Regions from separate parts of the Homo sapiens genome. Here region 1 is linked to region 2. Evidence: fine-mapped expression QTL. A gene starts in region 2. The other region holds a variant in brackets. All regions are shown on one strand. Distances are from middle to middle.

Region 1 (4,385 bases), 31 kb before region 2:
AACAGCACTTACCAGAGATACACTATGTACTAAGGTCTCTGGATGATAAAGTGGATGGAAATAGCTCATTTCCATTCCCAAATTCACTAACAGAGAGAGCAGTTAGCCAGGGCAGACCATGGGTAATGATGCTCGGTTGTCTGTGAATTAATTTCTGGACAGTACTGCCAGGAGCTAATGCATTTTTCAGTGAAGAGGAGTTTCAAGAAATCTTAATGCTAGTGTGGATTGGTTAATCATTATATTTACATCATCTTGGTGGGGTGAGGGGCCAGCTGGGGTTAATGGACATTTTGGAAGATGTGAGAACGCAGCCTTGGCAGGACAGAGATAGGAAGCCATCCATTCCACCCCGGGGCTGAGAAACTCTGCCTGTCCTCTGGACTGCTGAATTGCTGTGCGGTCATTTCGGAATTAAAGATGGATCTACTTTCTGATTAGCAGAGTTCAGCTTCTTTTGTGAAACTTCTCAAACAGTTTTATTCCCTGGTTACCTTCACATTTATTCTCGAATCTCTATTTCGTGGAGAGGTTGGTGTCAGGGCAGAATTGATCCAGCAGCTTACTGTTAACGTGATTTATCAATAGCAGTGTGAGATCGTATACAAATGTGGCTTAGCATTTTGATGTCTTGGCCATGCTTGATGATAAGGTATGCATTACTATAAAAATAAACTTACTGTGGCTCCTGAATGCCTTTGTTTTCCTTTTGCCTGCACAGCATTCCCGGGAAATGATTAATAAGATGTTTCATTTAAGTACCAAGCAATCCAGAAACCGAGCAGGAACACAGGCACCTGGATGCAGGAAAGCTTGAAATTAACAGGCAGCCATAGAAAGTATAAGATTAATTTCATTTCCTTTTCTTATCTTATGCTCTCTTTTATGTCTTTCCCTATGTAAAGGGGGAGATTAATCCAGGAATGATCTTTTTGTTGGCAATTTTATATTATGTTTGACTACTTAATAGAAATCTGAGCTACAGCGAGGCAGGATGCAGAAAGCGTATCCCGAAGGAGGAGAGGGAGAAGTCATTTTGAGCACAGGAGGCAGATTTCACAGCCAGTGTCAAAGCTGGGAGCAGGAAGAGTAAAGCAAACACCACGAGGCATTCATTCATTCATTCATCTATTCATTCATTCCACAGATATTTTCCCATAACGGCCACAGAGCCAGGCTGGGGAGCCTCCGTCATCCAGCCTGCTCCTTTGGGCTGCACCTGATCAAGTTTTTAGGGTGATTTGGAACCAAAATGAAATTCAGTACAATTCAGAACATATTTATTGAGCAGCAGCCATATGTTCAGCATCATCCCGGCTGCGTGGGGAATATCAAAAGGGGGGAGACATGGTGGCTGTCACCAAGGATCTCGCATCTAATTGGGGAGATAAGATACACACACAATACAAGGCAATTATGGTAAGAGCGTACATTTAAATACCACTCTCCTGTTTACCCACATTTCATATCAGCCTCTCTACATTGTTGGAGCCTCTCAACAACTTGGGGAGGGAGGGGGGCAGATATGATAAGTCTCATTTTGTAACTGAGGGATCCGAGGCTCAGCGGGGTCGGGAGGCTTGCCTCAAATCACCCAGCCATAAACAACAGCCCCGGACGTCAGCCAGGGTCGCAGGCTCCCAGCCTGTGGTGTGTTTCAACTAATCAGTTACACTGATTAAATGCCCGGTGGGGGTGGGTGGGGGGCAGCTGCCGGGGCTGGAGAGCTGGCCCTAGCCAGGCCTCCAGCGGCTCCTTTCTGGGGAAGTACAGGTCATGTCAGCCTTGCTTTGAATCCTGCCCCAGTTTTCCACCAAGGAGCCCGATGGCAGCAATGAAGGAGAGCCCCCTTCTCTTATCACCCTACTCCTGTAAGAATCCTATTCCACCTAGAGGGAAAAGAATAGGCAGTGAGTCCACTCAGGTCATCTTGAAGGCAACCCAGGGAATACGTGGCTGACTCAAGAACCCTGGACGTCACAGATTGGTGCCGATCACATGCAGACCACCATTTTACCATCAGGGCAAGCATCAATTTTAGGGTACCATGTTAACAAGGGCACAGATGATGCCAGAACCCAGCTGTCCCCAAAATCCTGGCACAGGGCAGAGCAAGCTGGGGCACACCGTGGGCACTACAGTTGAGAACCTGAAGGAATGAGCCAGGCCCGCCCTGGCTCTCCAAAGGGTGGCCTTCTCGGGCGCTCAGCCTGATTTTGCTCAATTTCTCCTCCTGCCTCTTGTGCTAAGTTAGAAGGACAGATGACATCATTCCTCCTCAGGCCCATTAACCACATGGATCGATGGCAAGAAATAAAATTTGGATTCTTCAAAAATCTCCACAGCAGATGGCCCCAGGAGACCAATTGCAACGAGATTCCTAATTAAATATAATTAAATAAGCATTAAGAGAGAGACTGATGCTCCCCTCTCCACATTACACCACTCTGTGCCAAAGAGTACAAAATTGAGAACGCCATTGTCCGCAAAAAAGCCACAAAGATCATTCAACTCCAGCCTCTGATGACCGAGCTGGGAAAACTGAGACCGGAGGGGCTACAAATTCAGCCAAGGTCTGCAGGATGTGGGGC[T/C]GACGACAAAAAGCTGACTGAGAAACTGACTCATGCACAAGTGCCCATTCTGGGGTCATGTTGTTAGCATCTAAAAGGCCCGGACACTTGCATGCTGGGCGGCCTTGGGCATGATCCTTTAGTCTCTGGGCCTCTTTTTCTTTCTTTCTTTCTTTCTTTTTTTTTTTTTTTAACTGAGTCTCACTCTGTCACCCACGCTGGAGTGCAGTGACGTGATCTTGGCTCACTGCAACCTCCGCCTCCCAGGTTCAAGCAATTCTCCTGACTCAGCCTCCTAAGTAGCATGCCACCACGCCCGCTAATTTTTGCCTTTTTAGTAGAGATGGGGTTTCATCATGTTGTCCAGGCTGGTCTCAAACTCCTGACCTCAGGTGATCCGCCCACTTTGGCCTCCCAGAGTGCTGGGATTACAGGTCTGTGTGTCTTTTCTTCTTCTAAGATCAGTGCCTTAGAAGTATGATGTGAATCACATCCATAATTTTTTATTTCCTAGCCACATTTTCAAAAAGTAAAAACAAATGGGTACACAATCAAAAGAATACAATTTTCGTTATACATTTTATATCACCCAAATCCCAGCATGTAATCAATATAAAAGTTATTGAGTACTTAACACTTTTTTTTTTCACCTCAAGTCTGAAATCTGGTGAATGTTTGACATTTACAACTTGTCTCTGTATGGACTGGCCACATTTCAAACGCAGTAACGAATGGTGACCATATTGGCCAGTGCGGGTCCAGAAGATGGGCCTGAGATAGTCTCTCACAGGTTGTTGTGAGTTGGGTTTTGTTTTTGTTTGTTTGTTTGTTTTTAAATAAACATGATGTGGCTGGGCATGGTAGCTCAGGCCTATAATCCCAGCACTTTGGAAGGCCAAGGTGGGTGGCTTGCTTGAGCCTAGGAGTTCAAGACCAGCCTGGGCAACATGGGGAGACCACATCTCTACAAAACTACAAAAAATACAAAAGAATTTAGCCAGGCGTGGTGGCATGTGCCTGTGGTCCCAGCTACCCGGGAGGCTGAGGTGGGAAGATTGCTTGAGCCCTTTCAAAGGCAGAGGCTGCAGTGAGTGGTGATTGCACCACCGCACTCCAGCCTGGGCAACAGAGTGAGAGTCTGTCTCAAAAAAAATAATAAAATAAAATAAACAATTAAGAAGATAAACATGATGTGAAATGTGCTTAGCAGCATCCTCACGTCTCATTAGCACCCAGTGAATATTAGCTACGATGATTATCAGAAAGCCAGTGTCCACACAGTTCATCCAGAAAGCACGACAGTCCATGGCTCCTATTTACCAAATCTTCTCTTTCAATTCCCTTCCACAGACACAACCCCTAACAGAACAACTGTGGGGGGAGGGATTTCTTTAGTCTCTGGGTAAAGCTATCAAAAACAAATGGCGGCTTCTCGAGCTCGCCCTTAAAGCAATCGGTGGATCCCAAGATTAAAATTCAACTGCAGCCAAATTGTGTTATAAACGGCTTCACTCCACCTGGGGTCTGGACGCCAGGCAGATGTAATCCCCTCTCCTGGGCATACACTGATGGAAACCCCGCCTCACTGCACCAGCCAAAGCCTTTAAATCAGCCGTTATTCCCGGCCTGACATGAGAGTTACAACAGGGTTTTACAGGCCCTCTGCAGGGCTCTCTAAATTTTGTGGCCGTAGCTTCCTATGGCTAGCAATCCAAATAAAAATAGTGCTATTGATCACAAAGGCATCAATAACGTCAGCCCTAAAGCTACCTGTGCACATTTCTAATTGTCCTGTCCTTTTTATGTCTTTAAATA
Region 2 (4,385 bases):
TCATTTATAAATAAGCCAGTACAACTATTAATACACAAGCATCATACTTTGTGGAAAAGTTCGTATCTCTAACAGCAGTACAATAAGTTCTGAAAATACTGAATTATGACCCTATGTAGGACATCAATGTAACACCCATTCTCCCCACAAAATGCCACTAATGCGTGAACCCCCATCAGCCGCCTGGGACTTTGAAATACCCACATCCGGAAAGCCCAGAGACTGAAGTCTCAAATGATTATGGCCAGAATAGCATGTAGTTTTAACTTTTTTTTTTTTTTTTTTGAGATGGAGTTTCACTCTTGTCACACAGGCTGGAGTGCAATGGCATGATCTCAGCTCACTGCAACCTCCGCCTCCCAGGTTCAAGTGATTCTCCTGCCTCAGCCTCTGGAGTAGCTAGGATTACTGACGCCCGCCACCACGCCCAGCTAATTTTTGTATTTTTAGTAGAGCCGGGGTTTCACCATGTTGGCCAGGCTGCTCTTAAACTCCTGACCTCAGGTGACCCACCCGTCTGGCTCTCCCAAAGAGCTGGGATTACAGGTGTGTGCCACGGCACCCGGCCTTAGCATGTAGTTTTTAAACTACCCATAATTGTAAATTTTGTACATTGAAAGACCCATAATTGCCACAAATAATCACAATTATGCAAGTATAAATAATCACCCTGCACAACTCTCCTCTTGCCCACAAAGTTATCCCTTTCATGAGAATTTAATATGTGACAATGGCCATTGTCTGCCAGGGAAAGCTCATACCGATTTCAGTTTCAGCAAGGCCACCTCGAGTCTCATAGAAACCAGAAAAAAAAAATGTCATTTTCAGGAAGCAAATTGATCGTTTTCCTCACATTTCCATTTGCGTTAAGATCATGGTGTGGCCTTGCTCTGGACTTTTTCCTATTCCCTGTTGCCTCTGGAGAGGAGGAAAGCTAAGGATGGCTGGTGGGCCCACATCGGGGGTCCCTGGGTGGATTGAAGGGCTCTTGTGGCTCCTGGAAGCCTCGCCCAAGTTTCTGGTAAGAAATCAAAAGGTGAGGTGGTGTCCCCTGTTCCCCTGTGGGATGATCAGCCCACAAAAGTGGGACAAATGAGTCTATAAAATGCTTCAGAGGGGCAGGTGGACTGCTCACTCGTGAGTCCCGGGAAACAGGCCTGGCCCAGTTCTCCAAACCTTTCCCCAGGGAGACCGCATCTCTGTCTTCTCTCTTCTTCTCTCTTCTCTCTTGTTCTCTCTTCTCTCTCTTCTCTCTTCTCTCTCCCCCTCCCTCCTCCTTCCTGGTTCTCTTTTTTCTGTTGATTTCACTCCCTCCTTTCTTTTCCCTTTCTCTTTCCTCCCCTTTCTCTCTCTTTCTCTGCCTGTTTCCCCTTTCCTCACTTTCATTTCTCTTTCTGTCTCTTTCTTTCTCTCCCTCTCTCAGGTCTCTCTTCTCTGTCTCTCTTCATCCTCAGTTTTCCCCTCTCTCCCCTCTTACTTTCTTTCCCTTTTTCCTTTTTCTTTCCATCTTCTTCCTCTCCCTCTCTGGGTTCGTGGCAACACAAGGAAACCCGCACATCCCCAGCCCGCAGCCTCGCCCCCTCGGTCCCACTGCAGTTACCCGGTGATCCATGCAGGTGGGAACAATCCAGTTAACTTTTCCCATCCGAGTGATTCTCTTTCTCTTCTTCATTCATAAATGCCATAACTCTCCCGGTCCTCCTTTCCAAGGCTCGTGCACTTGATTTCAAGGCTTGCCTGCCACCCAGGGTGCCACCAGAGTCCCAGTGCCTGGGTTGGGGGCTGGAGCGCACCCTTTGGGATCCCCCAGCCTGTCCTCCGCCTCACGGCTGCCTCGCTTCTGAGCTGCCACCCTCAGCTGACTCACTCAGATGAGATTTGGGAGGGAGGGGGGCAGGAGGAGGAGTTGCGAGAAGGAGGAAAACCCGCCTGGTCGGGTCCACACTTTGCCTAGATGCGTTTGGGTGTGGTGGGGAGCGGGTGACGGCCTCATTTACAGACAGAGGCCGGGGCTGGCTTCTAGGCGACCGGGTTGGCCACTTTCACTGCGCTTCTGGGTTTGCTGGGATCCAAGTTGACGCGACTTTTCCAGGAGTAGCTGGAAGACCTGAATAGAAACTTCAGGGGTCCCAGGACTGGCGGGGCTTAGAGGAACTCCCCGCCCCGCTTGCCCTTCCAGGGAACGGCCTGGCTAGGGGTGCGCTTTGACGCAAGGAGCGCATCGCTCTGCCTTGGCCGGGACCAGAGCTTGGGGGAGGCCTCCTTGCCCACTGCGAAGACTTTGGGGAAGGCGACGGCCAGGGGACGGACATCTGGGGGAGGGCTGGGGGTCTGAATGGCAGGAGCTGCACCAGGGGGCTGTGCGCGCTGCGCGGGTGTGCGCGCCTCGCCGGGGGCTGTCTCCACCTCTTCTGGCAAGTTGGACCTATGAGTGCGCAGCTCCGCTTACAACTATCAACAGCCGGGAAGGCTGAGCGCGTGTGAGCGCCGAGGGGGGCGCAGGACCCTCGCAACTTCTTCGCAGGACTCCAGCCTGGCCGCCGGCGCCCGCAGCCGTCCGAGAGCCCTGCGCCCGCGCCTCCCCTTGCGCACCGTGGCAGCGCCCGGCGGGCGGTCCTGCCAGCCCCGACGGGATGCCCGCAGCCATGCTCCCCTACGCTTGCGTCCTGGTGCTTTTGGGAGGTAGGTGCCACCCTCCCCCACCCGGCAAACTGGCTGAGCTCGGAAGGGAGGGAGCTCGCCGTCTAATGTCCCCTAAGGGCCCTTGGGGACTACGGCCCTGGGTCGGCCCACGCGGCTGCTATGCTGCGCCCTGCGCGCCTTTCTCCAGTCTCACCTGGCCGGCACCTGCGCGCCTCCAGGAGCTTCCTGGGGCCTGCGGGAGGGAGTCGCGTCACCTCGCAATATGAGAGCCGCTGCACTCTCTGCGCCAGTCGGGGCCTGGCCTGTAGGTACCCAGAGCTGCCCTTTGTGCCGGGCCCAGTGGGACCGGGGCCTCCAAGAAGATGCAGGAGGATCCCAGGCCCACTGAGACCCCCATGGTGCGGGACAAGCCCGGCTATTCAGACCAAGGTTACTGGGGTTGTTTTTGCCCACGGAATCCTGACCTGTGCGGGGTCGGGGCTTCTTCCTGCAGCAGGACTCGGGGAGAAGCTAGGGAGCGCGCAGTGACCCCAGGCTCGAGTTGTGCCCAGCAGGCCTGACAAAGGGGACCAAGGGGCTTCAGGAACCCCTGGTAGAGTAGTCAATGCCTTCTCCAGGACTAAGGGGTTCCCTGGTGGCTCTTCGTGGGGGTGGGGAGTAGGGTAGACAAAACTGTACAAAGGCCAGCTGACTGGAGTGTGCCATCACAGGGGCCCAGTCACCACTGACAAAAATGACAGTAACCACAGTTGAAGTGTGCCCAGCTGGGGGCTCATCCCCAAGCACCCTCACATTATGAATGGCTGAGAATTCTGGCCCTGGAGTTAGACCACCTGGCTGGGAAGCCCAGATCAACATCATATCAACCCGTCTGGCTTTGGGTAAGCATGGCCATCGGCTCTCTCAGCCTTGACTTTCTTTCCTGTCAAATGGGCTCACAAAATCCCCTCCTCCGTCTGGGATGATTGTGAAGATTACGAGAGCACGTGCAGGAGGATCACTCCACTTGCTGCCTGGCACTGAGCTCATGTTCAGGGAATGGCAGCCGAGAACCCCGGGGTGAAGAGGGGCTGCGCGGTCCCACAGAGCACGCTCTGCTCCATGTATAGGCAAGGAGCAAAGTCTAAGTCACCTCGAGGAGCTCTTCAATCACAGTCTTTTCTTCCCAGCCCCCAAATTTCTAAACAAGCTGTTTTGAGAAGAACTGGCAGGGGTCTGAAGGAGGGTCAGGGGAGGGTGCCTCCGCAGTTTGAAGAGTTGCAGATTCACCTGTCGAAAGGGACATTCATCCAGGGGCCGCTTCCCCTGCCAGTCTGGGAGCGAGAGGTGACACAGCTGTCCTTGGCCACAGAGTTAGTTGATCATCAGCATGAAAATAGACCACCTCACCCCTGCTGGTTCTTTCGAAAGGGCAGGAAAATGCAAACTGGAAAGGGTGACAAGGGGGCCAGCTGTGGAAGCGCGCCTCTGCTGGGTGCTGAGATAGGGAGGACAGGATGGGGAAACCGGGTGTCCATCTGCTCTCATCCGCCTCCTCCAGGCCGTTGCACCCAGTGGGAATGGAACAGTCTAGAGTGGTGGGACACATGCCCCAGGAACCTGCAGTCTCAGTCACAGCACATGGCTGTTGTCTTTGGCAGGCCGGAGCTTCCCGTCATGCCAATGAAATCACTGTGAGTGTAGAGCCGTGGCTGGCTCTTGGGGAGTCTTGCTGCCCAGCTCCTCGGTGACCTTTCACCACA

Which allele goes with the higher level. Alleles are on the strand shown, and positions count from the first base shown. SD is a standard deviation of normalised expression in the study named.
In carriers of allele C in region 1, the expression in cartilage of the gene that starts at base 1,942 in region 2 tends to be lower than with T alone (large effect, 1.5 SD a copy in Steinberg 2020).

Evidence for each region. PIP is the estimated chance that this variant, and not a neighbour inherited with it, causes the effect.
Region 1: its variant is the best candidate, but not a certain one, in a credible set for the expression of APCDD1L in cartilage (Steinberg 2020, PIP 0.58).

Annotation. Positions count from the first base shown.
Region 1 is chr20:58,544,224-58,548,608 of GRCh38, reverse strand. It overlaps APCDD1L-DT (APCDD1L divergent transcript), which reads right to left. Exons shown (of 7, transcript NR_034147.1): 6 at 681-797. Among named protein-coding and RNA genes, the nearest start is that of APCDD1L, 31 kb to the right of the region's middle. RefSeq lists an enhancer at 2,047-2,548. The variant T/C (reference allele first, on the strand shown) is at 2,592.
Region 2 is chr20:58,512,956-58,517,340 of GRCh38, reverse strand. APCDD1L (APC down-regulated 1 like) reads left to right here and starts at 1,942. Exons shown (of 4, transcript NM_153360.3): 1 at 1,942-2,682. The coding sequence starts at 2,634. APCDD1L-DT (APCDD1L divergent transcript) reads right to left here and starts at 1,962. Exons shown (of 7, transcript NR_034147.1): 1 at 1,601-1,962. RefSeq lists an enhancer at 2,341-3,339.